2 separate regions of the Homo sapiens genome follow, and region 1 is linked to region 2. Evidence: fine-mapped expression QTL. Tissue or cell type: whole blood. Region 2 holds a variant in brackets; the other region holds the start of a gene. All regions are shown on one strand. Distances are from middle to middle.

What was found. PIP is the estimated chance that this variant, and not a neighbour inherited with it, causes the effect.
Region 1: it holds the start of RAB43, and the variant in region 2 is fine-mapped to the expression of RAB43 in whole blood (TOPMed, PIP 0.92).

Annotation. Positions count from the first base shown.
Region 1 is chr3:129,118,064-129,126,159 of GRCh38, reverse strand. RAB43 (RAB43, member RAS oncogene family) reads left to right here and starts at 4,356. Exons shown (of 3, transcript NM_198490.3): 1 at 4,356-4,874. The coding sequence starts at 4,671. The region is part of intron 11 of ISY1-RAB43 (ISY1-RAB43 readthrough); the gene reads left to right. RefSeq lists silencers at 4,127-4,346, 4,367-4,546 and an enhancer at 5,327-6,272.
Region 2 is chr3:129,191,611-129,199,712 of GRCh38, reverse strand. LOC105374101 (a long non-coding RNA gene) reads right to left here. Exons shown (of 2, transcript XR_924469.3): 2 at 3,409-3,648. Among named protein-coding and RNA genes, the nearest start is that of CNBP, 12 kb to the right of the region's middle. The variant C/T (reference allele first, on the strand shown) is at 4,516.

The DNA of each region.
Region 1 (8,096 bases), 74 kb after region 2:
GCTCACCATTACAACACGGAATCTCACAATCCTACTTTTAATTTTGTAATATTTTGTAGCAAGCACCCCTCTGTATGAAAGACACAGGGTATTGTGGTTGGCATCTGGCCTTCATGGTGTTTTTTCACTTGGGGGCACATTTTCAGCACTAGCCTTGGCATCACCACATAAAGAAAATTTGGGGCCGAGCGTGGTGACGCACACCTGTAATCCCAGCACTTTGGGAGGCCATGGCAGGAGTATCATTTGCTTGAGCCCAGGAGTTCAAGACCAGCCTGGGCAACATAATAAGACCTCTACAAAAAATAAAAAAATTAGCTGGATGTAGTAACGCACGTCTGTGGTCCCAGGCCTGTGGCCGAGTACAAGAGGCTGAGTTGGGAGTATGGCTTGAGCCCTGGAGATTTGAGGTGGCAGTGAGCCGTGATTGTACCGCTGCACTCCAGCCTGGGCAACAGAGGAAGACGCTGTCTCCCCCACACCCCTACCCCCCCAAAAAAAGAAGAAAACTTGTCTGATAGTGTTGTAGGTTTATATTTTAATAATGGCAAGTGTAGAAAGAAAAAGATGAAAGGAGAAAGAAGGAAGGAGAAAACCAGGTACGAATGTCCCTTTAGCCACTTGGAGGAGGTCTGATCCAGGGAACATTGCCAGTATGGGATACCCTCTTTATCATCTGAGATGGTGCCACTGCATGGCAATGACACAAACAGTTAAAATGCATTCAGCTCACCCACCACTAGCTTTAAGAATGTTAAATTCTTGGCCGGGCGCGGTGGCTCATGCCTGTAATCCCAGCAGTTTGGGAGGCTGAGGTGGGTGGATCACAAAGTCAGGAGATTGAGACCATCCTGGCTAACACAGTGAAACCCCGTCTCTACTAAAAATATAAAAAATTAGCCAGGCATGGTGGCTGGAGCCTGTAGTCCCAGCTACTCAGGAGGCTGAGGCAGGAGAATGGTGTGAACCCGGGAGGCGGAGGTTGCAGTGTGCAGAGATCGCGCCACTGCACTCCAGCCTGGGCAACAGAGTGAGACTGTGTCTCAAAAATAAAATAAAATAAATATGTTTCTTGGCCGGGCATGGTGGCTCATGCCTGTAATCCCAGCACTTTGGGAGGCCGAGGTGGGCGGGTCACCTGAGGTCAGGAGTTCAAGACCAGCCTGGCCAACACAGCAAAACACTGTCTCTACTAAAAATACGAAAATTAGTTGGGTGTGGTGGCACACGCCTGTAATCCCAGTTACTGGGGAGGCTGAGGCAGGAGAATTGCTTGAGGTTGCAGTGAGCCAAGATCAGGCCATTGCACTCCATCCTGGGCAACAAGAGTGAAACTCTGTCTCAAAAAAAAAGTTAAATTCTTGACCAATTTTTTTTTCTTTCTTTCTTTTTTTTTTTTTTTTTTGAGACAGAGTCTCGCTCTGTCGCCCAGGCTGGAGTGCAGTGGCATCATGTTGGCTCACTGCAAGCTCCACCTCCTGGGTTCACGCCATTCTCCTGCCTCAGCCTCTGAGTAGCTGGGACTACAGGCGCCGGCCAACACACCCGGCTAATTTTTTGTATTTTTAGTAGAGACGGAGTTTCACCATGTTAGCCAGGGTGGTCACGATCTCCTGACCTCGTGATCCGCCCATCTTAGCCTCCCAAAGTGCTGGGATTACAGGCGTGAGCCACCGTGCCCGGCAACTAAATTCTTGACCTATTTTAAAAATTTTGCAATATAGGCCGGGTGCGGTGGTTCACGACTGTAATCTCAGCACTTTGGGAGGCCGAGGTGGGTGGATCATGAGGTCAGGAGATCGAGACCATCCTGGCTAACACGGTGAAACCCCGTCTCTACTAAAAATACAAAAAATTAGCTGGGCATGGTGGCGGGCGCCTGTAGTCCCAGCTACTCGGGAGGCTGAGGCGGGAGAATGGCGTGAATCCGGGAGGCGGAGCTTGCAGTGAGCCGAGATCGCGCCACTGTACTCCAGCCTGGGTGACAGAGCGAGACTCCGTCTCAAAAAAAAAAAAAGTGCAATATACATTTTTTCAAATTTGGTGTATTAAATGAAACATAAATATTTTTTAATTGCTGCATTTCAAATTAGCATGATTCCATTTCAAATAAAATGCCACTGTGCTACTCAGGAATTTACCACCAAAAGAGGAAATGCAGATATTAGACAGCTTTATTGAGGTATAATTTACATACCATAAAACCCACAGGTTGTAAGTTTACATTTTAATGATTTTAATAAACTTGAGGAGTTGTGCAACCCTTACCACAGTCCAATTTTAGAATCACCCCGCAAAGGCAAGGGAGTGGTGCCTGGGTTTTCTGACAAAATCTATACTCAGACCAACATGTCCCCTGCCCCAGCCCAACCAGTTCCAGGCTAGAGCAGTGGAAAGGCCAGTTAGCTATCCAACCACCGTCTACCCCTACGCTTCATCCTGGCTCCTGGATTCCACACCATTTTGTGCTGTGGTAGCTGCTCTGAGCTGGGGGCAGGCCTTGTTTTCTGGAGTTCTGGACTTTGACCTGAGCTAGTCCCAGCATGCAGAAACCTTCCATCCCATCTCCTGTCTACTTCTACCCTGGAGTGGAGGTTATTTCCTGCCTCTCTAACTCTCCGCTCCCATCAGGTGTACCAAAGTGGGGCTCTCAATTGCTTTTCAGTGGCACTTTGGGGTTTCCTGTCTGATTCTGTTGGGTATTTCCCATGGGAGTGGAGTTCAAACTTTCAGAAGAAACAACTCTTCTGCCTTCTCCACGGGGTCTGCCTTTGCAGACTGCTCATTCAGTCCCTTTCTATCTTGACCTGAAAGGTTGGCTGGGGTCCTCACAGTGGCACTGGGGGACTTGCTCTCTGCGAAGTCTCCTTCAGCTTGAAGACTTTCCCCTTTTCTCCTGGATTTTTGTCTGCTTTGTCCACAGGTGCATTACAAGGCCCCAGGACAATGCCCGCCTGTAGTAGCCATTCATTAAATATGTTGAATACCTGGAATTGGAGTGCCACAAGGAAGCTGTCTAGAGGGGTAAGGGGTGCTGTCAATTCCTTCCCATCTTCGGAGCTGGGAAGCCCAGTCCTGTTGGATCTAGTATAAGCTTCTTACAGATGTTTGGGTCTCCTTTCTCTGAGGCGCCCTGGTTCACTGGGCCAACTCAGGAGTTGGTCTGCCCTTCCTCAGAAATCCCTTCAAGTTTTTCTGTTCCTCTTCCTAGACTGGTGCTTTTTGGCTGGGTCAGTTTCCCAAATGGGCCTGTAGCTGCTCTGAGCTGGGTCATCCAGCCGTTTAGCAGCTGCTTCAACCACTGCTAGGCTGCCTTTTGGAGACAAGAGCTCCCAGCTCCTCCTTCTGGCCTAGCTTCCCATCAAATGGGGCCCTGGGTCCTCTCCTCACAAGGATTTTGGGCTCCTCCGCAGTTTTGTAGCCAGCCTGGATTCTGGCCTTCTGCAGCCTGCTCCCTCCCTTCCCTTCCGCCCCTGGGAAGAGCGACCCCCACCACTCTCGGAGACTGCACTGCCCGCCTGTCAGAGTGGGCACTCAGGTGACACTGCTGTGGTCGTCCCCTTCCTCCGTGATCCATTCCGGAGGGGGTCATTCTTAGTCTAGGCCTGCAGGCCCGGAGCTCCAGCCATGGTCTCCGCCTGTCCCTGACCGGCGGTCTGGGAGGCAGCAGGTAGGGGATCCCGGGCAGGCGGACCAGGCCTGGGTGGGGGGCGAGCAGGAGGCGCGGGACAGCACCTGGGGGTCCCAGCTGATGAAGGGTCGGGGTGGGCAGCGGTTTGGGGGCCAGACGGATCCGCGGTGTGGGCGCGCCGGGGTGTTGATGGAGGAGGGGCCGAGGTGCTGAGGGCGGGGTCGGGCTGGGGTCGGGGCTGAGGGCGGAGTCGGGTGGGGCGGAGTCAGAGCTGAGGTGAGCCTGAGGGCGGAGTCGGGGCGGGCTGAGGTGGGCCTGTGGGCGGAGTCGGGGCGGTGTGCTGAGGTGGGCCTGAGGGCGGAGTCGAGGTCGGGCTGAAGGCGGAGTCGGGGAGGGCTGAGGTGGGCCTGAAGGCAGAGTCGAGGTCGGAGCTGGGGACGGAGTCGAGTTCGGGCTGAGGGCGGAGTCGGGGCGGGCTGAGGTGGTCCTGTGGGCGGAGTCGAGGTCGGGCTGAGGGCAGAGTCGGGTCGGAGTCGGGGCGCGCTGAGGTGGGCCTGGGGGCGGAGTCGAGGTCGGAGCTGAGGGCGGAGTCGGGGGCGGGGACGTAGGCGGAACCCGGGTCGGGCTGAGGTGGGCCCGAGGGTTGGGCTGGGGGCGGAGTGGGTGCCAGCCTGAGGGCGGAGCCGGGGGCGGGCGGGGGCGGGCTGGGGCGGGCCTACAGGCCAGACTGGTGTGGCACGGAGCTGAGGACCGGCCGGAGCTTTGCGGAGGGCCCGGCTTGGCGGGTCCGGGGGGGAGCCGAACCCGCGGGGCACCGGGTCCGGGCGGGGCCGAGCCGGGCCGGGGCGGGAGCCAGCCGGGGTGGGGCGGGGCCGAGGCCGAGGCAGGCGGTCGGCAGTGCTGGGGGTTCAGGTGTTGCGGCGGCTCCACGTAGCCAGGCGGCCCGTGGGCTGGAGCGGGCGGAGCTCGGCCCGCGGCTTGCGTGAGCTCAGGCCGGTCCCAGCGTCCAGAGCGCCGGCCCTTCGGCTTCTTCTAGGCCATGGCAGGGCCGGGCCCAGGCCCGGGGGACCCGGACGAGCAGTACGATTTCCTGTTCAAGCTGGTGCTGGTGGGCGACGCAAGCGTGGGCAAGACGTGCGTGGTGCAGCGCTTCAAGACCGGCGCCTTCTCGGAGCGCCAGGGAAGCACCATCGGCGTCGACTTCACCATGAAGACGCTGGAGATCCAGGGCAAGCGGGTCAAGGTGGGAGGCCGGCCAGGGCCCCTGGAAGGCGCTCCCTCGGAGGGTGGGGCGGGGGCAGCGGAGCCCCTGGCCGCGGCGAGCGCACCCCGCGTCCATCTGAAGTTTCCTTTGGCTTCCCCTTTTTCCTTCCTCGGGTCGGAGCAGGCCTGGGCCCCGGGGTCTGGGCCGGGTTCAAGTCCTCAAAGCGCCGGCCGTGGGTTGCTGGGGGGGGGGGGGGCGAGGGAGTGTGGAGGAGGCGGCCCTGCCCTCCGGAGCTCACACCCTAGGAGGGGACTGTGCTCCAAAATAACTTTAGCCATTGGAAGGCAGGGGGTTAGACTCCCCTGTTCCAGGTACTAGCGGAGCGCCTTGGAGTGCGGAGATCAGACCCCCCACCTCCATCCACCGCGATGGCAGCCCCCAGCTCAGCCCACCGGCGGGGCACTCAGCCAGAGAACTGCATCCCCACCCCAGGACTAGGAGCGATCAGGAAGTAGTTGCTTTTAGGACCAGAGGGCCAAAACTTTTTGTCAGAATTTCCGGCCTGGCCACGCCTCCCTGCAGTCTCTTTGTGGACCTGGTGGTGGAACTTTACTCGACTAGGGCCAGCCCCGGTTCCCTCCCCCAGCTGGAGTTTGATAGAAACTGAAAACTTCACAGATACCGGAAGGTGGGGGAGAGAACCAAGCTTTGGCAATGGCTCCGAATAAAAACAGCAGGATGTGGTTGCCACAATGTCCTGGCAGTGGTTTGATAAATATTTGTGATGAATGAAATCAGAGTTTCTTAACCTAGGTGTTAGTACTCCCTAATCAACCAGGAGATCCTGGGCTGAAGGCACTCAGTAACTTTTCTGAACCGCACTGTACAGAAATCTTTGCTTGCTTTCATGGTTTCGAGCCCCCATGATCTTCAGGACACCCTCAGGGCACAGGGCTGGGACGATCTCTGCCAGGGAGATGGGAGTCACTGGAGCCTTGCTGCTGCTGGGCTCTGCCTCTCCGGGTGGCTCTAGGCCTGCTCCTTGTTGCCTTTGGCTAGGATATGTAGCTCTTTGTCTTTGTTTCTATAAAATTGGGATAATTTCTGGGTGTTGCCTCCCTCCTGCCCCAAGGTGGAGAAAAAAGTAAGTCAACAGTCTTTATGTGTCCACAGTGCCTCTCAGTAGATGTGACGGGGAAGCAGAAACTCCTGCCTGAGGGGTTTTATTATTATTATATTTTAATCGTCTTCTGGGGTCTGTGTTTTGGTCTCCGTGGATGGAAAAGAGCAAGGTGCAGAAGGCAGCTTTGAGTCACTCGGGACCACCCTTTTGGAGCAGGTAGCCAGGGAAGGGCTGGAGTGGGTGGAGTGTCCGTTATTGAGTGTGCCCAGTGATGATGCCAGCAGCTGCAGGGAAATGGGAGTGTGAAAATACAGGCTAAAGAGCAGTGGTGTCCTCCTCATGTGCTATCGGTCTGTGTCTGGAGTGTCTGTGGTGGCCCAGTGCTGACGGTGGTCAGGGAGGGGGCAGGGTTCCTGTTTACCTGTTGAGATAACAGACTGTGTCCCAGCAGAGCTCCTGGTTTACTGCGCACGGGTTATGCAATGCAGGGCCAGGCAGTTCGTTATTTTCTTTCCTTATGGTTGCCTCCAGATTGTCCTTCCTAGGAAGCAGCCCGGGGCCCAGGGAGCAGAAGAGCTGTGTAGCTGTGGTAAACACCTCTCCAAGTTATAGCCGCTGACCTTCTTGAGAGGCTGTTGGGAATCAGCTGGGTTACAGGTGCATTCTCTGCTGACTGGAGGGAATTCTTACCCCCGCTCACACAGGATGGAGCCTGGGCACACAGCTAAGAAGTGATAGAGGTGGGAATATTTTTCCCAGTTTTTCTGACTCCAAAGCAGATTTCTCCCCCATAGTGGACAGCTTTTCAGAATCCCGTTGTCTGTGGTGGGGAAGCCTCTGGCAATTGTTTACCACCTCATTTTGCCGGCAGGAAAACCTGAAGTCTAACTCACTGCAGAGGCTCCAAATTAAAGCTGGGCAGCCGTGAACTTGAGGGAACACTGTCCTTCGAGTCAGGCTTCCTGGGGTCCGCTGCCGCAGCAGGAGCAAGCCATTTTCCCTCCTCCATCTGTAAAGTGCCTCTGAGTAGTCTTTTGGCAATGTGATTTTAAGTCAAGTTTTTTGAGGTCTAATTTACACACGGTAAACCTTCACCACTTGAGGTGTTACAGGTCTATGAACTTCTCAAACTTACACAGACAAGCAGCCACATCACTATCAAGATGGAGAATTTTTCCACCAACCCAGAAAGTTCTTTTGTTCTTCTGTAGTCAGTTCCTTTCACCTCATCCTGTGGCAACCCCCGATCTGTTTTTTGTCTCTGTAGTTTCAGCAGTGTGATTTTAACTGAAAGCCTTGATGAACCAGAGCTTATTGTTGTTTTTTCTGTGGAAAGCAAGTGCACATCAGGGATTCAGTGTAAAACCTTTCCAGGGGCCGGGTGCAGTGGCTCATGCCTGCAATCCCAGCACTTTGGGAGGCCGAGGCAGGAAGATTGCTGGATGTCAAGAGTTCGAGATGAGCCTGGCCAGCATAGTGAGACGTGGTATCTATTTAGAATAAAATAAAATAAACCTTCTCAGGGCCTGTCTTGGGAAGCCCGAGATGCTTGTCCAGCAAGCATCCAGTCTTATATCCTAAAGCTTTCCCTGTGATTCTTTACAATGATGCTGGGTTTTATTAGAGCTTCAGGAAGCTTAGAGATGGATCACCTGGTGGTTTTCTAGCTCCTGTGAGCTTGGAGGTACTGAAAGGTAAGGAGAAAAGCCAAGAGGTCAGAGAGAGGGTCAGAAGGGCTTTAACTAGCTTCCCAACCAGTCAGAGCAATACCTTTATCTAGTTGTAGGTTGAAATTCTTGTTATTTGACTAAAGAATTCTCCTGCTAAAAAAACCGAAACATTTGAGAATCACAGATTTAATCAAATTACTTTATTTCTGTAGCCACTTCCCATTACAACCAGAATAACCTCCAAACACCTTCCCCAAAGAGATGGACCTCTGGAAGGAGACAAAGTTGGAGAGGCAGACAGAGGCCCATCTCTACCCTTCACTGCCTGCTCTCCAGCTTCACTAGCCCTTCAACATGGTGGGCTTACCCCTGCCTCAGGACCTTTGCATCTCTTCCCGTGCCCATCATACTCTGCCTCTAGATCCCCACGTAACTGCTACTTCATCATTCAGGTCCCAACGCAAATGC
Region 2 (8,102 bases):
CCTCATTGTATGGCAGTTCCACTTAGAAACTATTCATATTGACATCGATTCCGGAGATTCCAGATTCCATTTGCTGTATCATTGCAAAGGCCAGCATAAAATACAAGCCAACTGCTGTTATCAGCAAATCAAGGTTGGAAGGTACTTAAAAAACAGGAAAAGCGTGTGGAAAATGCCTTGTCTTAGCGACTCTCAAATGCAATGTAATAAATGCTGGCTCTGAGGACAACGTACAAATCAGGCAATCTCAGGTGTGATGCCAAGAGGGAAAATGAGGTATTCATTCAATAATAGTTCATTGGCTGGGCGCGGTGGCTCACGTCTGTAATCCCAGCACTTTGGGAGGCCAAGGTGGGCGGATCACGAGGTCAGGAGATCGAAACAATCCTGGCTAACACGGTGAAATGCCGTCTCCACTGAAAAAAAAAATTAGCCAGGCGTGGTGGCGGGTGCCTGTAGTCCCAGCTACTCGGGAGGCTGAGGCAGGAGAATGGCATGAACCCGGGAGGCGGAGCTTTTAGTGAGCCGAGATTGCACTACTGTGCTCCAGCCTGGGCAACAGAGCGAGACTCCATCTAAAAAAAAAAAAAAATAGTTCATTGAAGGCCCATGTGCCAAGTACGCTATTAGATACCAGGACCTTGTCTACTCTGAGCCTGTAGAGTCTGCTCTTAATTTATTTTATTTTAGGGACAGTCTTGCTCTGTCACCCAGGCTAGAGTACTCTAGGTATGTGCCACCACACTCGGCTAATTTTTATTTTTTAATTTTTTTGTAGAGACAGGGGTCTCACTTTGTTGCCCAGTCTAGTCTCAAAACTCCTGGCCTCAAGTGATCTTACCTCAGCCTCCCAAAGTGCTGGGATTACAGGCGTGAGCCACTGCACCCAGCCTGCAATTTAGAAACATATAATGAAATGATGAGATTTGTTTTCATGAAATGATGAGATTTGTTTTCAAGACCTTCTATAATTTTAGTTGGCAGAGTTAGCTTTTTTTCCTCTCTACTGTGAATCCTAAGATATAATTTCACCTTTTATGCCCCTGTGTAACAACCCAGTGTATTCTCCTTCACATAGAAATAGATTGCTTGGCACAGGGGCTCACTCCTGTAATCCCAGCACTTTGGGAGGCCGAGGCGGGCGGATCACTTGAGGTCAGGAGTTCGAGACCAGCCTGGCCAACATGGTGAAACCCTGCCTCTACTAAAAGTACAAAAATTAGCCAGGCATGGTGGCGGGCACCTGTAGTCCCAGCTACTCAGGAGGCTGAGGCAGGAGAATCACTTGAACCTGGGAGGCAGAGGTTGCAGTGAGCTGTGATCACGCCACTGCATTCCAGCCTGGGAGACAGAGCGAAACTCTGTCTCAAAACAACAACAACAACAAAATTAGCTGGGCATGGTTGTGGGTGCCTGTAATTCCAGCTACTTGGGAGGCTGAGGCAGGAGAATTACTTAAACCCAGGAGGTAGAGGTTGCAGTGAGTCAAGATCGTGCCACTGCACCACTCCAGCCTGGGTGATAAAGTGAGACCCTTCTCAAAAAGAAAAAAGAAAAAAAGAAATATATCAAAGTAGGTATTAGGAGAAAGTGAGTAAGGGTCTATAGGTCTGATGTGAGGAAACTCAAGGAGACTGCTCCTTGGCTTCTCTAGAAAATCTACCACAAGAGATTTAATGTGGCCTTCAAGAAAGACCCTTGGAAGAAACCCTGGAAATGCTAAGACCTTGGCCAATGTCCCCTAACTTCTCAATGGGAAGTTATTTACTGGTTCTTATTCAGCTGAGACCACAACCTATGAGTACTGGAAAGATAACAGGAAGGAAGGGGAAAGGGAGATGTGAAAAAAGAGACAGAAATTAAAGAAAAATTCCACCCTTTAGTTGTGCCTTAGGTCTCCCCGAGTCCCAGTCAATACCCTGGGGCTTAATCCTGCTGCATCATTCTTCCAGTTTTCTATTAATAAAGGAAGTGCAAGGTGCTGTGTGCAGCTGTGAACATGCGGGTGCATACACACACACACACACACAGTTGGATTGTTGTTCAAAACTTGGGATGTTGTCTGTCTATCCTGAATTTTTCAGACATACACACCTTCCTCACCTGCTGCCAAGCAGCCCTATAGACAGTCTCCTGGGAATAGCAGGCCAACAGGAAAAGCTTGCTGAACTGCCAATGTGCAGACATTCACATGTCCCAGGCCCCAGCCCTGCACTCCCTAGGGTTCTTCTGCTCTAACACCACACAGAAGGAATATGAAACAGAAACTTGTTTCTGTCCTCTTTTCTTCTCCCTGCAATCTAAAAAACATTAATTCTCAAGGATATCTGGCCAAAGCATTGATTACTCTACAGAGTTCTTGCTATATTCAAGGGAGGAAACAATCTTGTGTTTTACTTTTAATGGCAATAGTGTATTTCTTGAGAATCTTCTCTTCCAACAGAATTAGCACACAAATCATCAGACAAGTGACCCTCAAGCCTGTAAGATGCCAATATTTCATTAGGTGAGAGGCCCTGAAAATGCTGCCCCATCTCCTGCACTTCTCTTTTACCACCGTTAAACATTCCTTTAGATTATTCCAAGTATGGATTCCCACACTTGGCTACACTTGCATGCCATCAGCTCAGTTTTTGCCAAATCTATTGTTGTGCACCATCTTTCTAAATATTTACAACAAAATCATAGTCCCTGATGGATTGTGGCAGGTCAGTCTTGGAGAGAGAAGGAAATGACCCTGACTGCCCTAGGATGTCCCAAGGAAACTAGCTGTGTATTTGAAGTATCCAAAAGGAAAGAAAAGGGAGGCACAGAAAGGATCGTATTAGCCACCATTTCAGTTTTGTTCAGAGCTAGCTTTGAATTCTGTCACCCAAAGCAAACCTCATTTGGGATAAATCTTCAACATCAGTAACATTTAGTCCCTTGAGAATATTACCTCAAATGGGGAAGTCAAAATCTCAAAAAGAAAATTACTTTCAATCATTATTCGAATACAATAGAAATTCTATGATTGCCTATTCACGTCAAAAATATTTCCTTATATGTAATAAATCAGTGTAGACTTGATTTCAGGATTGGATGTATGAAACTGACAGAAACTGATTTTAAAAATCTTTTATCTTGGTAAAACATTTTGGAATTCACAAAACATTTTCATATATTATGCCTTATTTAATCCTCACCACAGGCCTTTGAAAATATCCAAAGCCCGTTTTCTTTAACATTGTTTGTGGGGCATAGATATAAATTCCATATTCCCAGAAATCCTAGTACTTCCCTTCATGTTTTTGCTATGGTTTGAGGGGAAATTATAAGAAACATTGTATATCAGTTTCTCCATGGCTAATTTGGGGTAACTGCAAAATTCATATAAATAAGCTACTCAAGGTAATCTTGGTCAGTGAGTGTTTTATAAGGTAATTTATTGAAATGAGAGCTGAAGTTTGAATTGTTAGCTCAGCTATGCAGACGGCTTCACTGTGAGCATTGCACCACAGCCAGGCTCTCTCAGTGTAGATCAGAAGGACAGTTCACTGAACTCAGTAGGGCAGTACTGGCTGTGCCAGCTAGTACAATTCACAGCTTTATGGCCAGGACTGCAGAATCATGGCTTCCACTTCCCATCAGGGGAGAAAGCAGCAGCATCTGAGCAGATGAGAACGTTAGAAAAGAAAAGCTGGGCTATTATCTGAAATTGCACTGGCTTTGACTTGTCCAAAAGCTATTTCCCCTTGCAAAGTCACTTCGTGAGCACTGACTGTACCAGAATAATCAGCATGCTCTGTGGCTGGCTGAAGGGTGAGTCAGGATTCTAAATTCTAGCTGCAGTGCTGGGGAAAATGGAAACACCAGGCAAGGAGTACATCATGATGTCAGCAGTTTCCGAGGGCTGGTCAAAATGCCAGAAAACACGGCTGGTTTTACAATGCAATAAATGTATCTGAATGTTCCAAAAAAACGAGGCAAAGGATCTGTGCTCATGACATCTGCCCTCAAGCAGGTAGATGTTTTGATATGGTGTGCCTAGAACCTAACGTGCCACCAATTAAAGTGTATCGCTGGCATGCAAGGATGCAAAGAAAACACTGCTACATGTAAGGTGCAGCAGGCCCAAAGCTCCACAAGGTGGGCAGCCCCAAATGAAACCCCTTGGTCACTTCATCAGTGATCCAAATTCAAGTTTCAGAAATCATTCATCTATTCCTAAACTTTACAGCACGTTGAGAAACAATGACCACCAAAATGTCAACACAAAGTTTCACATAACTGACAAAAGATTGCTATGCAGAACATATAAAGAACTTTTAGGCTGGGCGCGGTGGCTCATGCCTGTAATCCCAACACTTTGGGAGGCTGAGGCAGGTGGATCACCTCAGGTCAGGAGTTCAAGACCAGCCTGACCAACATAGAGAAACCCCGTCTCCACTAAAAATACAAAATTAGCCGGGCATGGTAGTGCATGCCTGTAATCCCAGATACTCAGGAGGCTGAGGCAGGAGAATCGCTTGAACC[C/T]GGGAGGCGGAGGTTGCAGTGAGCCGAGATTGCACAAAACTCCGTCTTAAAAAAAAAAGAACCCTTACAAAGTAGTAAGAAAAAGACAACCCAACAGAAGAAATAAGCAAAATAGCAAAGAGGAAACCTGAATAGTCTACAAATATATGAAGAGATATTCAACCCCACTGGTAATCTGGGAAACGCTAATTGAAAAAAATGAGACACCAAATGGAAATTAATGTTCGCACAAAAAACCTATACATAAATGTTAACAGCAGCTTTATTTGTAATAGCCTAAACTTGGAAATAAACATAGGTCCTTCAATGAGTGATGGTTGAACAGACTGTGGTCCATCCATACCATAGAATACCAACAATAAAAGGGATTTTTTTTTGTTTTTCTTGGTTTTTTTTTTGAGATGGAGTCTCGTTCTATCACCCAGGCTAGAGTGCACTGGTGCAGTCTTGGCTCACTGCAACCTCTGCCTCCTAGGTTCAAGCAATGTGCCTGCCTCAGCCTTCCAAGTAGCTGTGACTATAGGCATGCACCATCACGTCCAGCTAATTTTTGTATATATATATTTTTTGAGATGGAGTCTCGCTCTGTCACCCAGGCTGGAGTGCAGTAGTGCAATCTCAGCTCACTGAAACCTCCGCCTCCCAGGTTTAAGCAGTTCTTTGCCTTAGCTTCCCAAGTAGCTGGGATTATAGGAGTGTGCCACCACGCCCGGCTAATTTTTATATTTTTAGTAGAGACGGGGGTTTCACCATCTTGGCCAGCCTGGTCTTGAACTCCTGACCCTGTAATCCACCTGCCTCTGCCTCCCAAAGTGCTGGGATTATAGGCGTGAGCCACCGCGCCCGGCCTACTTCTTGTATTTTTAGTAGAGACAGGGTTTCACCATGTTGTCCAGGCTAGTCTCAAACTCCTGGCCTCAGTGATCCGCCTGCCTCGGCCTCCCAAAGTGCTAGGATTAAAGGTGTGAGCCACTGTGCCCGGCCTTGGATTACTGATACATGCAACAACTTGGTGCTGAATATGCTGAGTGAAAAAAGCCAATCTCTAACGGTTACATACTACATGGTTCCTTTTATACAACATTTTGTTTAATTTTTATTTTTTTTCTTTTTAAGTTTCCACACACAATATTGAATACAACATTTTTGAAAGGATAAAATCTTTTTTTTTTTTTTTTTGAGATGAAGTCTTGCTCTATCACCCAGGCAGGGGTGCAGTGGTGCGATATCAGCTCACTGAAACCTCTGCCTCCTGGGTTCAAGCGATTCTCCTGCCTCAGCATCCCAAGTAGCTGGGATTACAGGTGCCCACCACCACGCCTGGCTAATTTTTTTTAGATGGAGTCTCTCCCTGTCATCCAGGCTGGAGTGCAGTGGTGCAATCTCGGCTCACTGTAACCTCTACCTCCTGGGTTCAAGCAATTCTCCTGCCTCAGCCTCCCTAGTATCTGGGACTACAGGCACGCGCCACTGCACCTGGCTAATTTTTGTATTTTTAGTTGAGACGGGGTTTCACCACATTGGCCAGGCTGGTCTCGAACTCCTGACCTCGTGATCTGCCTGCCTTGGCCTCCCAAAGTGCTGGGATTATAGGCGTGAGCCACCGCGCCTGGTCTAATTTTTTGTATTTCTTTTTTTTTTTTTTTTTAGTAGAGACGCGGTTTCACCATGTTGGCCAGGCTGGTTTCGAACTCCTGACCTCAAGTGATCTGCCTGCCTTAGCCTCCCAAAGTGCTAGGATTACAGGCATGAGCCACCTTGCCCAGCCTGAAAGGATAAAATCTTGCAAATGAAGAACAGAGGTTAAAAAGAAGGGGGAGGCCAGGTGCAGTGGCTCACACCAGTAATCCCAGTACTTTGGGAGGTCGAGGCAGGCTGATCACTTGAGGCCAGGAGTTCCAGACCAGCCTGGCCAACATGGTAAAACCCCGTCTTTACTAAAAATACAAAAATTAGCCAGGTGTGGTGATGCATCCCTGTAGTCCCAGCTACTTGGGAGGCTGAGGCACAAGAATTGCTTGAACCCAGCAGGTGGAGGTTGCAGTGAGCTGAGATTTTGCACGACAGGAAGATCCTTGTGTTTTAACTGTTCTGTATCTTGAGTGTGGAGGTGGATACATGGACCTACATATGACATAAAATTATATATAATTAAATGCATTCACACACACATAAAATGAGTCTGAGTAAAACTAGGGAAACTTGTACAAAATTGGTGGACTGTGCCAATTTTGATATTCTGGTTGTGACTATACTTTTGCAAAGTATTATCATCAGTAGGATCTGGGTTAACGGTATGCAAGTTCTCCGTATTATTTCTTTCGACTACATATGAAATCTACAGTTATCTGAATAAAATTTTTTTTTTTTTTTTTTGAGACAGAGTCTCGCTCAGGGTGGAGTGCAGTGGCACAATCTTGGCTCACTGCAACCTCCGCTCCCAGGTTCAAGCGATTCTCCTGCCTCAGCCTCCTGAGTAGCTGGGACTACAGGTGCTCCCCACCATGCCCAGCTAATTTTTTGTATTTTTAGTAGAGATGGGGTTTCGCCACGTTGGCCAGGATGGTCTCAATCTCCTGACTTCGTGATCCACTCGCTTTGGCCTCCCAAAGTGGTGGGATTACAGGCATGAGCCACTGCGCCCAGCCTGAATAAAAATTTAAATAAAAAGAGACACCATGTTTCACCCATGAGATTGGCAAACAAATTTTAAAATCTCACAGTATAAAGTTCTGGCAAGGGTGTAAGAAACATGAAGCCTTCATCCACTGCTACTGAGAGTATAATTAGCTATGGCCACTTTTGAGAGTAATATGACAAGCAACCAGTGAAATTTAAAATATCACCCTTCATTGCTCAACATTCACCTTCTGGGGCATATATACTCTAGAGAAATGATTCTGCATGGGCCTGAAAAAATTTGCAAATTTGCATGTAAGGGTTTATGATAGCAAAGGAGTGAAAATAATGTAAATATCCTCTAATAGGTGAATGAACAAATAGAACATAGTTTATTTATAATATAAAGCAGCATAAAGTAATGAACTTGATGAGAATGAACATATATATATATACACACACACACACACGCAGATAGATCTTAGAGACACAATATCAAATTTAAAAAGCAAGTTACGGATTGATATTTACTTATTCAACAAATACTTGGGTGCTTACCATGTGTCAGGAGCTGTTCTAGGAGCTAGCAGTACAGCAGAAAACAGACAAAGCAAGATAAAGTCTCTGCTTCACATATCTTACATTCTTGTACAGGAACACAAGCAAATAGACACAATACTATTTATGTAAAAATGTTAAGGGTGCATGTATGGTTTGGAATATATATCACATGTATACACATACACATACATATGTTAATGTATACACACATTTTTTAACTGCTCCTTGTGGAGCAGGGGTACTCTAAAAGCAGTGTGCCTAGGGAAGCCATACTTTTTAAAAAATAATATTTAAGGCTGGGCATGGTGGGTCAGGCCTGTAATGACAGCACTTTGGGAGGCCAAGGCAGGTGGATCACCTGAGGTCAGGAGTTCAAGCCCAGCCTGACCAACAAGGTGAAACCCCAT